Linked DNA regions of Homo sapiens: region 2 is linked to region 1. Evidence: fine-mapped expression QTL. A gene starts in region 1. The other region holds a variant in brackets. All regions are shown on one strand. Distances are from middle to middle.

Evidence for each region. PIP is the estimated chance that this variant, and not a neighbour inherited with it, causes the effect.
Region 2: its variant is fine-mapped to the expression of ZNF384 in monocytes (BLUEPRINT, PIP 0.95).

The regions. Positions count from the first base shown.
Region 1 is chr12:6,682,834-6,692,399 of GRCh38, reverse strand. It overlaps ZNF384 (zinc finger protein 384), which reads left to right and starts at 3,025. Exons shown (of 12, transcript NM_001385745.1): 1 at 3,025-3,302; 2 at 4,174-4,233. It also overlaps a transcript of PIANP not described here. RefSeq lists silencers at 2,907-2,986, 3,067-3,176 and an enhancer at 2,547-3,173.
Region 2 is chr12:6,660,162-6,669,727 of GRCh38, reverse strand. ING4 (inhibitor of growth family member 4) reads left to right here and starts at 6,609. Exons shown (of 8, transcript NM_016162.4): 1 at 6,609-6,663. The coding sequence starts at 6,627. It overlaps ZNF384 (zinc finger protein 384), which reads left to right. Exons shown (of 12, transcript NM_001385745.1): 11 at 539-697; 12 at 1,613-3,251. The coding sequence ends at 2,014. RefSeq lists an enhancer at 6,579-6,638. The variant CAAAAAAAAA/A (reference allele first, on the strand shown) is at 4,470.

The sequences.
Region 1 (9,566 bases):
GCACAGAAGGGGAAGGAGCTCAAGTGCCGGAGAGCACACTGGGCTCTCACCTTCAGCAAGGATCTCTCTTCAAAGGGACAGTGTGACCCGTGGCTCATCCATATGCAAAAGGCAAACATGAAGGCCCCTAATGAAGAGGGAATTAATTACTGCCTGATTAGACCACTGTTTCTCTAAATTTAAATAAATTAAAATACACCAGCAAGGTACTGGAAATCCTCACCTGTTCCCTCTTCCTAAATGTCCTCCTTTCCCCATGGAAAGTCAGAAGGCAGGAAAGACAGAGGAGGAAGGAGACTGTTCCAGACTCTGAACTGTACTAAAAAAATTCTCCCAAATGATACTGCACTGTCACGTTAGCCATGAAGAGTCGTAAGGCCCTGGGGAGCAAGCCCTAACTTTTCTCTCCTGTAGTTGAAACAGAGACTGTGGGGCTTTGAGAGGTCCTCAGAAAGCTGCAGCAGAGTCACTAGCCAAGAAAAAAACAATGGCCATGCTGTCCTTTTGGGAACTGGAAGGTTCTTCGAGGTCACACATCACAGCCACCACTGGAACCAGCGTCTCATCACCATCCTTTCTTTGCCTCCTGAGCTGTGCATCAAATGACTCAGCCAGGCTTCTCTTAGCATTTTTCTGGAATGCTTGCCACTGCGGCTTAGACCAAACCAGGGAATGGGGAAGCCCCCAGGAGGAGGGAGGGATCTCCCAGGCACAGCTTAGGGTGTGGAAGTGATTCAAGATGGAAACAGTATGCCAGCTGGAGAACCCCAGGCTAAAATTAACAGCCCTCCTCCCCCTACGCCCCACATTTATTGTTCTAAAGCTTTTCCCTAAGGAGTTCAAAGCACTTGAAACTTCTTTTTTTTTTTTTTGAGATGGAGTTTAGTTCTTGTTGCCCAGGCTGGAGTGCAATGGCGCAATCTTGGCTCACCACAACCTTCGCCTCCCAGGTTCAAGTGATTCTCCTGCCTCAACCTCCCAAGTAGCTGGGAAACTTCCTTCTTATAGCAAGGGCAGGAATAGGGCTGACGGAGACACGGAGACCCAGGAAGTGCCCAGTTAACATAAATAGGAAAAGAGCAGGAGGAGAACCAGAACGTATAGCTATTATTACTATTTCCTGTTCCCACCTTTCAATACCAGCCCCTGATGTCAAGGTTTCTTGAATCAGCAATCTCTAACCCACACAGCAATAGGTCTGGTCACATCTGAGCCCTTAAAATCCTTACTCTGCCAACTGTTGCTACTCAGTCAACAGAGACTGAGTGCTGAGCCCAAAAATGTGATAAAGGGAACAGACACTTTAAAAAAGATACAAACTACAATTACAATGAAATGCATCATCTATTTAAATATTTAAAGGCGTACTTTGTTACTTTCTTGCTTTGACCTTGGGGGAAAAAATCACTTAATCCTTTACAGGCTTATTTTCATTATCTGTAAAATGAGCATTATAATTATTTCTGTTAAAGTTATTTTTTGCTGGGCGTGGTGGCTCACGCCTGTAATCCCAGCACTTTGGGAGGCTGAGACAGGTGGATCAGTTGAGGTCAGGAGTTCGAGACCAGCCTGGCCAACATGGTGAAACCCCGACTCCACTAAAGATACAAAAAATTAGCCCGGTGTGGTGGCGGGCGACTGTCATCCCAGCTGCTAGGGAGGCTGAGGCAGGAGAATCGCTTGAACCCAGGAGGCAGAGGTTGCAGTGAGCCAAGATGGCGCCAATGCACTCCAGCCTGGGCAACAGGGTGACACTCTGTCTTTAAAAAAAAAAAAAAAAGGTTATTTTTCTCAGCAAGAGGCTCTTACCATTAGTAGGAGAGACCTCAGTTCTGCTTAGAGCTGAGCCCAGGGGGATTCTGGCCAGGTCGGGGTGCACGCTTGTAACAGCATTCACTTGTTCAAACAACATATTCAGCATTTACTATATGCTCAGCAAAGCAACGTATTTCCTTCCATGAGGAACTGACAATCTTGCTGGGGAATCACATGTATGAAATAGTTAAAATATCAATAAAAGGTACGTATTAAATACTATGGGAATTCAGAGGGACCATTACAGGTTGGAGCAATCAGGCAAGGCTTCCTAAAAGGGTTCATATTTAGGTGTTCATAATGAACTATAGTTCATTTATACAACAAGAGTTTACAGACCACTTAACTGCCAGGATATGAGGATACAGCAACGAACAATTCAGTCCTCGCTGTCCTGTAGCCAATATTTTAGTTGGGAGAGGTGGACAGCAAACAATAAATCAGGCAGTAATAAGTGCTATATTTAAGTAAAACAGGGTAAGGGGATAGAGATGTGGGTATGGGCAACAAGAAAAGACCAAAGTAAAGTAAGGGATGTGTCAGAGAGACAGATTTTGATGGCTGGGAGAGTTTCTAACTGGACCTAAGTAGGGACCTCCGAAAAACAAGGATACGTCCTAGTCCTTTCCCGCATATTCAAAGCATTGAGACATTCTTGGGGGTATCAGAAAAAATAATGGTAATTTCCTACATCAGCTTATTCAACATCCAGAGGGAAGAGAAACGGGGTCCCAGCATCTGAAGAACCCACACCTCCTCTCCTACCTTGATGGATAATTCATGAACCTGTCGCGTTTCCACCCCCCCACCTTCCCCAGATGTCCCTTCCGGAAGCTCAGGGCCGGAGTCCTCCGGTTTCAGCTTTTGCCCCTAGCGGAACCCGCCTTCACTTCCGCTATAGCGTCACATCCCCTCTTCCCAGTCGCTGGGCAGAAGCTATTTCCGCCCCGAGTTATCGTAACTTCTGCCCTGAATATCTCGCAGCGCTAGCGGCGCCGGAAGTGTTCCAGCCACTCCCGGAAGTGACTCGGCTTCTGCACGCCCCTCTTTCTCCATTAGCGCCCCCCCTACATTGCTATTTCCCTCCCTCCCCCCTTTTCGTTTCCGGCGCTCCCGCCTTCTCTCCGCAGAGCTCTTCTCTGAGCCTGTTGGGGGGAGGGAGGGGGGCGTGGAGGAACTGGGGTTCGCGGGAGCACGAGCTGCAGCACCACTTCCGGGTGAGTGCAAGGGGAGGGCAGCAAGGAGGGGGGGCCACCCACTACCTCGCGCCCCCGCCCTGCGGGTGTCTCGCGCGCGTTCCGTGCGTGTGAGTGTGTGGGTCTGTCTCGCTCCAGAAGTGCGTGCCCGCGCGCTGCGCCTTGCGCTTTTTCCCCTCCCTCGCCCCTTCCTGGTCCTCCCACCCTCCTCGGCTCCCTCCTTTCCCAGCAAACGCCGCCCCTCCCGCGCCCTGGCTCAGGCTCTGGCGCCGCCGCAGCCGTCGCCGCCCGGTGAGTCTCGCGCCGCTACAGCCGGCGCGCGCCAAGCTGCTTGCTCCTCCCCCCTCCCCTTTTCCTTGGGCAGGCGGGGAAGGGGGGGTCCACGATGTGACTGTGTGTGTGTCCGTCCCGGAACCGGAAGTGGTTGTGGAGGAGCGGGCGATGGGAAGGAATGGGGGGGTTTAGGGGGCGGGTGCCTGTCTGGTGGGTGGCAGAGTTCAGCTCCCTGGAGGGGAAGGAGGGACGTCCCAAGGAAGGGTCTTTGAGAAAGGGGTAGGGGACGACATCAGGAGAAGGCTCCCAGGAACTGTCTCAGGGGAGCGAAGGTTTTGAGGGGACAGCTGGGGTCTCCAGTAGATAGACCACGGTGCAGGCTGAGGGAGGTACTTCTTGGCACAAGGCCTCGGGTAGGCAGGGGGCGAAGTCCTCGAAGAAGTGGGGGGAAGGCTAGAGGAAGTGGCTGGGCCTGAACTGGCACTGTGCCTGCCACAAGGTCTTGTGCATCCCCCAGCCCTCAGCTTTGCCTTCTGAAGCCACTCCTCAGGGGCACAGACCCTCCTCCTCCTCCATCTCTAATGTTCTCTGACCCCTGGTTACCTGTGGCCTGGGAACGAACAAGGACCAGTCTCTGAGCCTAGGAGTGAAACCCAAACGCTGGTGATAGAATTCGTCTTAGTTTCTGGGAATTGGATTTATTTCTCTTGTATCCACGTAGAGGGTAGCACTAGACTGCTGTTATTATATCCACCCGTCTTTGGATTGCTGGCTGGGGGGTCTGCCTGCCTTCCAGACTGACTGCTGACAAATAATTCCTGAGGTTCTCCACAGTTCTCTGGTGGCTGCACCCTGCCTGGCCCCTGTAACCTAGACAATTTGTTTACAGAAAGTTCAGGAGCCCTGGAAAGGAGAAGGAATAAGACGGCAGGAGGAAGAGAGAGAGAGGGTAAGATGATTTTTGGGTTAATGGCTTTTCTGGTTTTGGGGGAGAAGGGGTCACAACCAAATGGGGCGTGTGTGTGTTTCACAATGTGATAGAATACTTAAAGTAATAGCAATTGTAATGCTGAGATTGTTGTGGAGAGAAATCAGTTTTTTTCTATTATCTCTTGAGGGTCAGGAAGTTTTTGTGTAAAAAGTTGGCGCTATCCCCCATCACTTTCCATTCCTACTAATGCTCATCAGGAATGAAATATGAAATGCTCAGGTGAAGCCACTGAATAGTGTTGCCTTGTGTCCAAAGGGGAAATCTTTATTCTGCTTTGGGACACAAAGACCCTAAATGCCAATATAGTCCTTATGGAATTGCTTTCCTGTGTCTGGAACAAGCAGAGCTGAGTTTAGAATGGAGTTCCTATCCCAAATAGTCCAGTGGAGTGTTAGAAGTGGGTCTGTGGAGTGATTAGAATCTGTGACACAGGGTTATTTGAATTTGGTATGGCAAGATGAAATTTTCAGGGGAAAAAAAAAACTGCTTCATGGTTAGTCTGGAGTGAAGTGGATAAAACTGTACGGAGTAGACTCCAGAAGTAGGTCTGGAAGAGTTTCGGGTAGCCTGAAAATGACAGTGAGTGGACCTAAAGAGTTTGAGTTCAGAACTTATGATCCCAGAGGTTGGTTTATAAAATGCCCTGTGGGTTTCTGAGCCAAGTTGTTGATTAAATATTGGGTACATATCTCTTCTTCTCCAGTCTTATTTATTTATTTTGGCCTCACATTCCCCAGATCCATCATTTATAGTGGAACAGACAGGGCAAGGAGAACCACCGTGCCGTCCCTCCCACAGGATGCAGGGTAAAGTGGTCCGGTGGTGCCCAGGCTAGAAGCTGTTGGCCCAGGTTGCCAGCTGTGTGGTGGTAGCAGTCCTGTTTAGTTTGTTTGTGTATGGTGTGATGATGTTTCCCAGTAACATTGGGGTGCATTTGTTCTGAGTTACTTGTACTTGGAAGAGTTTATGGATACTGGCGGGAAAGCGTCACATCCTACTGGGATGGCCCTTCTTGAATGTCTTTAGACCCTGAGAGAAAGAGATTTTGTTTCCTTTTGGAGAAACAAAAAAAACTTTCTCTGTGTTTCTTCATTTCAAGTCTTGAGCTAAGGTAACCTTTCTGCAGTTGTGTGTTTTGGAATGGTTTCTCAATAGCGTCTTAAGTTCTTTCTGTAGTTGAATTCAAGTTGATTGTTTTTTTCCATCTTTTTCTTGTTGATGCTACTTGTAGATGATTTCTAAACCGGAGGCTATAGATTTGTTACTTTTGGGTAGTTCCTTTGTAATTATGTAGTCCTTATGTAATTTTCACTAATTGTCGCTAATAGTCCTCATCTTGTGGAAGTGTTTCTGTAACTCTTCTTTTCAGGAGCACTTGGGGCATTTCATTCTTTCTCTTTTTTGTGCTGCCTTTATCTCATCACCATATGCCTTACAAACTTATTTATACAGGCCTCATCCTCTTCCATCCTCCATCCTGATAGAAACCTAGTAAAATGGTTAATTCATCCACTTAAATAGTTAAGAGTCATCCACTGATATAGGACCTAGAATTAGAATTCACAAGTCTTGGCCGGGCACGGTGGCTTACGCCTGTAATCTCAGCACTTTGGGAGGCTGAGGAGAGCGGATCACCTGAGGTCAGAAGTTCAAGACCAGCCTGGCCAACATAGCAAAATCCCGTCTCTACTAGAAATACAAAAATTATCCAGATGTGTTGGCAAGCGCCTGTAATCCCAGCTACTTGGGAGGCTGAGGCAGGAGAATTGCTTGAACCCAGGAGGTGGAGGTTGCAGTGAGCTGAGATCACGCCATTACACTTCAGCCTGGGCAACAAAATGAGACTCTGTCTCATAAAAAAAGAATTCAGAAGTCTTGATTCCCAAGGCCATTCTCTAGCTACTGAACTTGATGAGTGTATTTCATGGTTTTCTAAGGGTTGGTTGTGTTAAGGGAATGCTGTTTTCTTGGGGAAAGAAAATCATGCTTTATTTGAAAAAACAACAGTAAAAAAACAATTAGTGGGTTCTGGGAAAGAGATGGTGGTCTTCACCATATCTGCCAAAAACACCTGCTGGAGGCCATGTCATCTTTATCCCTGGATGGTTGGTAGCATTACGGAAGGATGTGGTCAGATAGACAAAGCTCTGGGCCAAGAGTTCAAGTCCTACCGTGTTTCACGACTATTATTAATACTTGATAGTGTCTCTCTTCTTTATCTCCTGAGGGCTTCTGAGATTTGAGATTGGAGAAGGAATATGTAGTTCCTTGTGTCTCTTAAGAGAAAATTACTCTCCAACTTAATTAGAGTAAACCTGCCTTCTTTTTTTTTTTTTTTTTTTTTTTTTGAGACTGAGTCTCGCTCTGTCGCCCAGGCTGGAGTGCAGTGGTCTGATCTCCTTTCACTGCAACCTCCACTCCACCTCCCAGGTTCAGGCAATTCCCTGTCTCAGCCTCCTGAGTAGTTGGGATTACAGGCGCATGCCACCATGCCCAGCTAATTTTTTGTATTTTAGTAGAGATGGGATTTCACCATGTTGCCCAGGCTGGTCTTGAACTCCTAAGCTCAGGCAGTCCACCTGCCTCGGCCTCCCAAAGTGCTAGGATTACAGGTGTGAGCCACCTCGCCCAGCAGTAAACCTCCCTTCCTATTAACAGAACAGTTGAGGCTTGGTGCAATAGTAAAGTTGATATGAGAACCCAGATTTTCAGCCTGCCAGCATTTTTCTTTCCACCAAATTATATCTTTCCTTCTCTTCTGTTTTTTCTTTCCTTTCTATTTCTTTTTCTTTTTTTCTTTTTGAGACAGGGTCTCACTCTTTTGGCCAGACTGGAGTGCAGTGGCGTGATAATGGCTGACTGCAGCCTCGACTTCCTGGGCTCAAGCAATCCTCCTGCCTCAGCCTCCCAAGTAACTGGGACTACAGGTGTGAGCCACCATGCCCGGCTACTTTTTTAATTTTTTGTAGATACAGGGTCTCCCTATTTTGCCCAGACTGTTCTTGAATTCCTGGGCTCAAGTGATTCTCTTACTTTGGCCTCCCAAAGTACTTTCTTTAAATATATAGGCATAATCATTAAAATTGGCACTCTCTGTGTAGACATGAGTTTTCTGTGTAACATCAGTGGGCTTCTTTGGGTGATAAGAATGTTGATATGTGCCTGATTGAATGTTGGGATGATTTGGAGAAATTTCCTCCACGAAAGATAGAGTAAGCGGTAAAACAGACAGTAAGCAGATATTTGAGTGATCTGGCCCCAGAACGCCCTGTTACACAACTCTAGGGGGCGCCATTTACATTGTATTCTAGCAATAGTTTTGATTCTTAGCTCTCCATTGATCTCATTTCAGGAGTACAAAGATGAAGTCAGCCTCATCAGTAGCACAGTGGCATAGCATTTCTCAGGTGTCATTTTGCTGGTAAAGGTTGCTTATAGTTGGATGAGCAGTTCTCTCTGTGGTCTCCCTTTTGGGCTGACCTATTTATCGGAAGCTGGTAACGCATATGTAGTGTCTTGTCCTTGGACCAGACACACCAGTTTATTGGATGCAATAAACTAGGCATCCAAGTAAGTGGAGGGGCTTTTTATTTATTTTCCTTTGTAAAGTCCGGCCTCTTTATTCAGGCTCTGTCATCCTAAAGTAAGTTATCTTGGTAGCTAAGTGAGGTTTCACAGAATAAGGAATATGACCTTGAACTGCATGTCATTTTGCTGTTATCAAAAACTTCAATTTTGAAAACATTTTTTGAGAACTAGCTGGAAAATAGTTCATTCCTGGAAATATTCTAAATTTTATTTCCTGGATCAAGCCATAACATCAGAAAGTGTGTACTACAGTTATATGGTTTTGGTTCCTTGTAGAACCCCTTTCCTTAACTTGCCCTTTGGTGCCTGGATTCACATTCCTGCTTTGCTATTTACTGTTGGACTCTGTGCCTCCAGTTTCCTCATTTCAAATGGGAATTACAGTACCTACCTCATTGTTGCAGGGACTAAATGATGTAGTAGTTGTAAAGTGCTTAGAACACTACCTTGAACACAATAAGTGCTTAATAAGTTTTAATGATAATGATAGTGGTGATATTGTCCACCAGTTTTTTTTTTTGAGACGGATTCTCACTCTGTTGCCCAGGCTCGAGTGCAGTGGTGCGATCTTGGCACACTGCAACCTCCACCTCCCAGGTTCAGGTGATTCTCCTTTCTCAGCCTCCTGAATAGCTGGGACTACAGGCGTGCGCCACCATGCCTGGCTAATATTTGTACTTTCAGTAGAGACAAGGTTTCACCATCTTGGCCAGACTGGTCTTGAACTTCTGACCTTGTGATCCACCTGCCTTGGCCTCCCAAAGTGCTGGGATTGCAGGCATGAGCCACCGTGCTCAGCCTCCTCCTTCCTACGTTTTCACATCCATAGTGCATTTACTTTACTTCCTTGATTCTTTTTTTTTTTTTTTTTTTTTGAGACAGGGTCTTGCTCTGTCACCCAGGCTGGACTGTGGTGGTGCAATCTCGACTTACTGCACTCAGGTGATTCTCCTGCCTCAGCCTCCCAAGTAGCTGGGACTACAGGTGTGTGCCACCACACCTTGCTAATTTTTGTATTTTTATTAGAGATGGGGTTTTGCCGTGTTGGCCAGGGTGATCTTGAACTCCTGAGCTCAAGTGACCCACCTACCTCGCCCTCCCAAAGTGTTAGGATTACAGGCATGAGCCACCACACCCAGCCAACTTCCTTGATTCTTTTGGGAAAATTATACATTGGCCCTTTCTTTCGTTTATTCTCCCTCCTAATTATTATTTTTAATCTTTTTTATTTTATTTTATTTTTTTTTTGAGACAGTCTTGCTCTGTTGCCCAGGCTGCAGTGCAGTGGTTAGATCTCGGCTCGCTGCAACCTCCACCTCCTGGGTTCAAGCAATTCTCCTGCCGCAGCCTCCTGAGTAGCTGGGATTACAGGCGTGTGCCACCATGCCTGGCTAATTTTTGTATTTTTAGTAGAGATGGGGTTTCACCATGTTGACCAGGCTGGTCTCAAAGTCCTGACCTCAAGTGATCCACCTGCCTCAGCCTCCCAAAGTGCAGGAATTACAGGCATGAGCCACCACACCCATTCTCTCCATCTTAATTCTCTACTTAATTCCCACCATTTATCACCACTCTTATCTCTTGTCTGTCATTTCTTTCCACTAGAAGGTTAGACAGGGATTATGCATTGAGACTTGAACCCCTAGCATTGTCTGCAAAATCTATATGTAGGTAGTCTACCGTTGTTCAATTCATTAAATATG
Region 2 (9,566 bases), 23 kb after region 1:
GAGTTGGAAACCAGCCTGGCCAACACGGTGAAACCTTGTCTCTACTAAAAATACAAAAAAAATTAGCCAGGCCTGGTGGCATGTGCCTGTAGTCCCAGCTACTTGCAGGCTGAGGCAGGAGAATCGCTTGAACCCGGGAAGCGGAGGTTGCAATGAGCCGAGATTGTGCCGCTGCACTCCAACCTGAGCGACAGAGTGAGAGACTTCATCTGGGAAAAAAAAAAAAAAAGAGTTTTGACCCTGTGGGCCCCCTGTGAAGGTCTTAGTGTTCCCTAAAGATCCCCATGCCTCATTTTAAGAACCACTGGACTGGTGAGACGGGCATAAGCTGTCTTGGGATCCTGGTATGTGCTACATGAGGTATGCTTCCACCCTTAGCCTGTAGCTTCTCAAGTTTCATTTGAAACAATTTCTACTTTCTTCAGATAGAGGGAGAAGCTGGGAGGCCTGACACCTACCTTTTTGCTTTCCATCGAGGTCAAGGGGGCAGGAGGAAAGAGTACAATGTATTCATTCTGGTTTCTCCCAATTTTCTCAGTCCCACAGACGGCAACACAACAAAGATAAACCCTTCAAGTGCCACAACTGTCATCGGGCGTACACGGATGCAGCCTCACTAGAGGTGCACCTGTCTACGCACACAGTGAAGCATGCCAAGGTGTACACCTGCACTATCTGCAGTCGGGCATACACATCAGTGAGTGCTCCGTTTCTTCTCTCCTTCCTCATAGTCCTCTAAGAGTACAGTCCACTTCACCCCATTTTCTGGGTAGAGATCTGTTGCAGTGAATACCCTGCCTCCCTAGCTCCAACTTAGCAGAACAGGTAAATATTCAGAAATTAATTAGACCCATTCTGAGGAATTTAGGGGATGCCTGATCTCCTAATCCTATAGAGACGCATAAGCTGTAATTCTTCATTTTACTTAAACATAAGGCAAAATAAAGCCACTTGAAATTTTGAGGGGAGCTGGATTTCAGTTAGGCATTTTCTTCTTCTTTTTTTTTTTTTTTTCTTTTTGAGACACAGTCTCGCCCTGTCACCCAGGCTGGAGTGCAGTGGTGTGATCTCGGCTCGGCTCACTGTAACCTCCACCTCCTGGGTTCAAGCGATTCTCCTGCCTCAGCCTCCCAAGTAGGTGGGATTACAGGTGCATGTTGCCATGCCCAGCAACTTTTTGTATTTTTAGTAGACATGGGGTTTCACCATGTTGCCCAGGCTGGTCTCAAACTCCTGACCTCAAGTGATCCACCTACCTCAGCCTCCCAAAGTACTGGGATTACAGGTGTGAGCCACCGCACCTGGCCCAGTTAGATATTTTCCATGAGACTCCAGAAAAGGTTGTAAAGTTGTTTCATTCAGGGGTCTTTGAAAAAAATAGCAGCTCATTCCTTTGCCAGTTGAATGTTGAGTGACTTCTAAAGGTTCCTCTCTTTTTTTTCTCAGTAGTGAGCCACTGAAAGTGCTACTTGAGTTTTGCTCAGTCTTGGCTCCAGAAAACCAGTATAAAGCTTACTCTGCTTACAGCAGAATCAGAGCCTGGGGTGCTAGTTACAAGTAATCTCTTTTCCTTCCTCTTTATCCCTCAACTTCTTTTTACCATCTCCCTCAGGAAACATACCTTATGAAACATATGCGCAAACACAACCCGCCTGATCTTCAGCAACAGGTGCAGGCAGCAGCAGCAGCGGCAGCAGTGGCCCAGGCCCAGGCTCAAGCTCAAGCCCAGGCTCAGGCTCAGGCTCAAGCCCAGGCCCAGGCCCAGGCCTCCCAGGCATCACAGCAGCAGCAGCAGCAGCAGCAGCAGCAGCAGCAGCAGCAGCAACAGCCACCACCACACTTCCAGTCTCCTGGGGCAGCCCCCCAGGGTGGGGGTGGTGGGGACAGCAATCCCAACCCTCCACCCCAGTGTTCCTTTGACCTGACCCCGTATAAGACGGCGGAGCATCATAAGGACATCTGCCTCACTGTCACCACCAGCACCATCCAGGTGGAGCACCTGGCCAGCTCTTAGAGATCCGTGCTGCCACCCACTGGGAAGAGGAAGAAGTAGTCCTGGTGTCTTCTTTCTCCAACTCTTGGTGGGAAAAGTCCTTTTCTTCCTTGACAGGCCTTGGCTCCATCTCCTTGGGCCTCTGTCACGGCTTTCCTTCACAGGATACCATCCTTTTTCTGAACTCTTCTTCAAAAGGAACATCAGCCCTCCTGATTGCAAAGGAATACTGAGCTGATGGTGTCATCCAGCAGCCTCCCCTCCCAAGCAAAGCTTCTAAAACTGGGGGTCGGTGCTCAAGGGAAGGATTTGCTATGACCTCATAGAACCTTGTCCAGTGTGGCCACTTACCCTATCCTTACCCTCCTTATCCTCAAAGTTTGGGCTGATGTAAGACTAGAGGCTGGCCCTCCCAGATAACAGAGAAAAGGGAGCCCCAAATGCAACCAGCCTCTTGTTCTATTCTTGCCTGCAAAAGAACAGAGGTTTCTCAAATGCCTCAGTCCCTGAGAGCCATTTCTTCCCCTACATCGTCTCACTTTGCTTCCTATTGACTGCTGGTAGAAGGAGATTTGGGGTAGGGGCTAGACCTCCTTTTATTTGAAGGGGGCAAGGGCTGAGATGTGGTCCCCAAGGGGCCAGAAATTCCCAAGTTGGTCACAGGTGGCTTAGAAGTGTGTGTTATGGTTTTACGGATTTCCTTGAAGCCTCTCTCCTTCTCTGCCTACAAAGACCCTATACTCTCAGTCTCCCCAACCCACCCCCAAGGAGCTGTGGGAGGCTTTGTGTTATCTGTGAAACTCCAAAACAGGGGTGTTGCGGAGAAGGGAGAGTTCAAGGCAAACGCAAGGACTGGACTTAGCTCCCTAGGTGCCACAGTCAGATGCCGGACACGGATTTATATATAAATATATATATATAAATATATTATACTCACTCATCACGGCCATCTTTGTTGTAACCATTTCTGTGTTTATAAATGCATTATCTCTGAGAATTTTCATATTTGATGTTTTGTTTATTTTTGTCCTTTTTTTCCCTCTCTCCACCCCTGTCCTCTAGCCACAGCATTTTTCTTTTTGTCTTTTTTTTTTTTTTTTAAATCATGGCAGATTTCAGAGGAAAGGAAATTAAAAAAAAAATCAGGAAACCAGTTGTTATAAAGTAATTTAAAAATGAAGAAAAAAAGAAAAAAACTTATGTACAAACCAAGGGGTGTTTTTAGAACATTGTATAGAAATAAATTCATGTAAAAGGATCAGAGGCAGTGGAGCTACTGATGTGAGCGAGCATGCGGAAAAGGTATTTGGGGAGATGTCCAAGAACAGTACTGAGGATTTATACCAGAGTGTGTGTGTGATGAACAAGTGCTTGTGTGATGATGCCCCATTTGTGCAATTCTCCAGTCATGGAAGGGTACAGTTTCATGATGTCTCCAGTGAAATCCTGGTTTATGAGGACTTCTACATACACATTCTGTCATGGGGATTGCATTGCCTAAATATGTGAGAGCAAGGCTTTGGTTATGTGTTAACAAAACAGCTAAGCTCCCTATGGAAGAAAAATGGAAGCCTCTTGAAAGGACCTACACTCCTGCCTGAGTCTGTGGAAGAGGGGCTTGCAGTTGGCAATGTGTATACATATGTGTATTTGTTACCTTGTGGAAATCATAACCGGTTAAGGGGTGCAAGATTGATTTATGCAGGAGAGCTGTAGTACTATGGAGTAGAATGTGGTCATGAAACCTGGACTTCAGCCCTTTGCCTACCATCAACCAGTGTTGGCCAGGGTGCTTCTTCAACTGTTAGTGAAGGGATTGGACTAGATAACTCTGAAGATACCTTTTTTGAGAATTAAGTAACTTGCTTTAAGGCTGGGTGCGGTGGCTCACGCCTGTAATCCCAGCATTTTGGGAGGGCGAGGCAGGCAGACTACTTGACGTCAGGAGTTCAAGACCAGCCTGGCCAACATGGTGAAACCCCATCTCTACTAAAAATACAAAAATTGATGGCCGTGCACGGTGGCTCACGCCTGTAATCCCAGCACTTTGGGAGGCCGAGACAGGTGAATCATGAGGTTAGGAGCTCGAGACCAGCCTGGCCAGTATGGTGAAACCCCGTCTCTACTGAAAATACAAAAAATAAGCTAGGCATAGTGGTGGGCGCCTGCAATCCCAGCTACTCAGGAGGCTGAGGCAGGAGAATCTTTTGAACCTAGGAGGCAGAGGTTGCAGTGAGCCAAGATCGTGCCATGGCACTCCAGCCTGGGCGACAGAGTGAGACTCTCTCTCAAAAAAGTAAAATAAAAATACAAAAATTAGCCAGGTGTGGTGGCACGCGCCTGTAGTCCCAGCTGCAGGCTGAGGCAGAAGAATGACTTGAACCTGGGAGGCGGAGGTTGCAGTGAGCCGGGATTGCACCACTGCACTCCAGCCTGGGCCACAGAGCGAGATTCTGTCTGGAAAAAAAAAAAAAAA[CAAAAAAAAA/A]AAAACCTTGCTTTAAGCACCGAAAAAGTTGTGAAAGTTGTGACCAAGCTCCCACATCCTGAGAACTCTGGGACTGCTGGCCAATAGTACTTGTTATGTAGTTGGGCTGGGATAAATAAAGCCCACTTAATTTAGTGCTAGATATCCTGTGTGGGCACCTAAGATGGTGTCTCAATATGTTGTGTAATACCAATGAATGTATCACATATGACCAAATATGCCAATGTTTCTTAGCTCCCTGCATATTTACTGCTTTTTCCTCCCACTCTCACCAACTCTTGAAAAGGCCCTAATGGCCCTAACTTCATCACCAGTATTAGAACTAGAATCTACTCTTTTTATGGATACACTCACACTCACTTATTCCAACAACCCTATGAGGGAGGTAGTAGTCTCATTGTATAGTAAAACAGGCACAGAGATCAAGTTACCGAAAAGCATGACTTTTGTAATTAGAGCAGTTTCCCGGATTCTATTGCTGTATCTTACTACCTGCACACTAGTAAACCTGGGGTTTACAGGCTACAGATCCTTTCAGCTCTGATACCCCCACCACTCTACAGCCCCTGAACCCCCTCCTCCAGCCTGCTCTTACTGTCCAGATAATGTTTCAAATACATCCCTGCATCCATCTCGAAGCAAAACAAAGCAACTTCCAATCCGCCCCGGGTTGGAAGTTCCTCTTCTCCACATATTTGGTAGAAATTATATAGCTGAAAGTCTGTCTCTTTAAAAACTTGCCGTAAGACATTGGTAATTCTTATGAAGGATGTGTGAGGGTACGAAAAGTGTGAGGGGTGGCAGCTATCTCTAAAATACTATCTTACTAACACCACTATTAGGTTATGGCCTTTGTGTTGGCAGTGTGTTGACAGCCTAGTGTGTTGGCAGCCTCTCATACCCTTGACTGCTTCCCATTCTGATGAAAACCATAGAAATCACTCTACCATAGCTGACTAGAGTGATGGCTAGCAACTAACTAGCCAACTAGCCCAGTAGTGATACTGCTGCATCCCTCAATCCCTTCAGAATTATGATGCTAACATCACATATAAACAAAAGGAAAACAAAAACACGAGATTTCCCCCTTAGAGAGTAGCAAGAGGGGCCAGGCACAGTGGTTCGCACCTGTAATCCCAGCACTTTGAGAGGCTGAGGTGGGCAGATCACCTGAGGTCGGAAGTTCGAGACCAGCCTCACCGACATGGAGAAACCCCATCTCTACTAAAAATACAAAATTAGTCTGGCGTGATGGTGCATACCTGTAATCCCAGCTACACGGGAGGCTGAGACAGAAGAATCACTTGAACCCGGGAGGTGGAGGTTGCGGTGAGCCATGATCACGCCATTGCACTCCAGCCTGGGCAATAAGAGTGAAAATTCTGTCTCAAAAAAAAAAAAAAAAAAGCAAGAGGGCAAGGCAGGAAGTAATATTTTATATGTGAAAGTGTATTCTAGTGTAACGTACAGGAGCTCTGACAAAAGATGTGCAGAATTATAGCTTTATTATGAGTCATTCTTTGTATTTATAAGTAGAAAGGTGATCATCTTTCTCAAGTTAAAAAAATAATGCTGGGGGAGATGGTGTTTGTGTGAGTGAATAGAAATTCAGACGGTTTAAATGTCTCAAGGCCTGATACTCTTCCCCAACTTCCTTAAGAAACTAACTGGCTTGAAAAAAGTCATTCTGCAAAAGAGGGAAAAAAAGTTGGATCTTCCAGTTGCTGAGAAGGTATGTTTACGCAATATGAGCCTAAAGTGAACAGTTACCCCTGCACGGATTACCATACATTCCCGTTTTGGAGGGAAAAAAGTTTGCTAGAGAATGCAAAATGGCGACCTCCAGTGACGTCATACCTGTCTCGGTCGCGTCCTGGGGTGTCTGTAAGGGCGGAAGCGGGCTACAGCCGCCTCACTGTGGGCGGTCGTGGCTACCATGCAAAAGGAAAAGTTTCAGTGTCGGGCGGATGTGTACCGGCGGTAATATAGTAAGGGCGGAAGTTCTCCTTTAAGGGCGGAAGTTCTCCTTTTAAGGGCGGAAGTTCTCCTTTTAAGGGCGGAAAGGCTTTAGCCGCAAAATGGCTTCGGCCCCTGTCGCGTTACAGTCACTTCCGGGGCGGATCGGAAGTTGCTTTGTTTTGCTTCGAGATGGCTGCGGGGATGTATTTGGAACATTATCTGGACAGTAAGAGCAGGCTGGAGGTGGGGGTCGGGGCTGCAGAGTGGTGCGGGGATCAGGGATGAGAGGATCTGTAGCCCTTAAGTTCCAGTGACGAGAAGGTCACAATTATGAAGCGGTTCTGTGGCAGGAAATATTGGAGGGTGCGGAGAAAGAGGGGGCGGGGCAGCAGGATCGAGGCCCCGCTGATGGGTGTAGACGAGGGAGGGGTGCGGTGTGGGGGTTAGAGACGTGTCTTGAAGGGCTAGTGTGCATGGCCAGGAAGATAGTTGCTGCCCCCATTCTCCAGGGTCTCCAGCCTCGGTAGATTTTTTTCCCCATAGTCGTTCAGAATCGTTATCACACACTGCCATTTGGAGAAGCGGTAAAGACCTCTCCTCCACTCCATTCTTCCTCAAAAGTGGCTTCTCATGGGGTTGAGAGTGGTGGTGATGAGTGACCACTGTCAGATGATGAACTAGAACGCTTCTCTTCATGGAGTAAAGATCTAATTCCCATCAAATGAAAATCTGGTGTTTATGCGATTTATGTAAACCACCCCTGCAGAAAGCCTATTGCTCTGTGCGCTTACATTTGTTTTAGGGCCCGGAGTCATTTATTCAACAAATATTTATTGAGGTCCTGCTATGGGTCAGACATAATGGCAGGCACTAGGGATAGAAAAATGAGTAAGACAAGGCTCCTGCCCTCAAGAAGCTCACGATCTAGTAGGAAACAGATTCTGCAAATAATTATAAAACACTGTGACAAGTGAGATAATGGAAATACATTAAAAAGGACACTTGGTAGGCAACCCTGGAGAAAAGGGGGGTAATTACCTGGGGATGTAGGAAAAGCTTTACAGCGGAGGTGATGTTTGAATAGGGTCTTGAAGGTTATTTGCCAGTGAGGAGAGAAAAAAGGAATTCCAGGTTGGGGAAAGCATCCGCAAAGGTACTGTGATGGGTTTGTGGCAAGGTCAAGGGTGTTTGATATTTATGACTCAGAGGTCAGCGTATTTGATATTTATGAATCTAAGGTAAGAAATTGAGAAAGGAGACTGGAGAAAGAGGCTGAGGCTAGATTGGACAAGGTCTTTTAAGCCAAACGAAGAAGTTTGCATTTTAAAGTAGAGTATGATTTTTATAGAGGAAAATGACTAATATATGGTAAATTGGAGCATGATATTGTTGATAACAGAGATCAATTAGTGATAACATTCCAGGACAGAGATAAGAACCTGATTTTAGGGAGTTACAGAAGTATTTAGGAGTTAAATATGAAAGGACTGACTGAATGACTGAGTGGTTGAGAGAGAAGGAAGAATCTAAGGTGGCTTCTTCCTGCTTAGAAAGTGAGGTAGACAGGCTGGGCACAGTAGCTCATGCCTGTAATCTCAGCACTTTGGGAGGCCAAGGCGGGCAGATCACTTGAGGTCAGGAGTTTGAGATCACCCTGTCCAACATGGTGAAGCCCAGTCTCTACTTTAAAAAAAAAAAAAAATTAGCTGGGCATGGTGGCATGTGACTGTAATCCCAGCTACTTGGGAGGCTGAGTCAGGAGAATCACTTGAACCCAGCAGGTGAAGATTGCAGTGAGCTAAGATCATACATACCACTGCACTCCAGCCTGGGTGACAGAGAAAGACTCCGTGTCCCTCTCAAAAAAAAAAAAAAAAAAAAAAACAAAGGCTGGTGGCCAGGCACGGTGGCTCATGCCTGTAATCCCAACACTTTGGGAGGCTGAGGCAGGCGGATCATGAGGTCAGGAGATCGAGACCAGCCTGGCTAACATGGTGAAACCCCGTCTCTACTAAAAATAAAAAAAATAGCCAGGTGTGGTGGTGTGCCCCTGTAGTCCCAGCTACTTAGGAGGCTAAGGCAGGAGAATCGCTTGAACCTGGGAGGTGGAGGTTGCAGTGGGCCGAGATCATGCCACTGCACTCCAGCCTGGGCAACAGAGTGAGACTCCGCCTCAAAAAAAAAACAAAAACAAAAAGGCTGGGAGCGGTGGCTCACGCCTATAATCCTAGCACATTGGGAGGCTGAGATGGGTGGATCGCCTTAGGTCAGGAGTTCCAAGACCAGCCTGGCTAACATAGTGAAACCCCGTCTCTACTAAAAATACAAAAATTAGCTGGGCGTGGTGGCAGACGCCTGTAATCCCAGCTACTTGGGAGGCTGAGGCACAAGAATTCCTTGAACCTGAGATTGCGCCATTGCACTCCAGCCTGGGCGACAAGAGCGACACTACACCTCAAAAGAAAAGAAAAGAAAGTTACTCAGCGGAGAAAAGATCATGCCAACTGCTGCAGAGATATTTTTTAGGATAGGCTTAATAACACCATTAGATTTGGTAAATCACCAGTGACTCAGTCTTGTGAACTGGTGGTAGCAGACCTGAAGTTGTAGGTTTAAACAGTAGAGGCATTTTATTTTTTTTTATTTATTTTATTTTAGTTTTTCTGTTTGTTTGTTTGTTTTTGAGACAGAGTCTCACTCTGTCACCCAGGCTGGAGCGCAATGGTGCGATCTTGGCCCACTGCAACCTCTGCCTCCCGGGTTCAAGTGATTCTCCTGCCTCAGCCTCTTGAGTAGCTAGGATTACAGTGCCCGCCACCATACCCAGCTAATTTTTGTATTTTTAGTAGAGATGAGGTTTCACTGTGTTGGCCAGGCTGGTCTCAAACTCCCAACCTCAGGTGATCCACCCACCTTGGCCTCCCAGAGTGCTGGGATTACAGGCATGAGCCACCGTACCAGGCCTTTTATTTTTTATATATATATTTAATTTTTATAGAGACAGGATCTGGCCATATTGCCCAGGCTGGTCTCAGACTCCTGAGATCAAGCGATCTACCTGCCTTGGCCTCCCAGAATGCTGGGATTACAGGCGTGAGCCACTGTGCCCAGCAAGTAGAGGCATTTTTA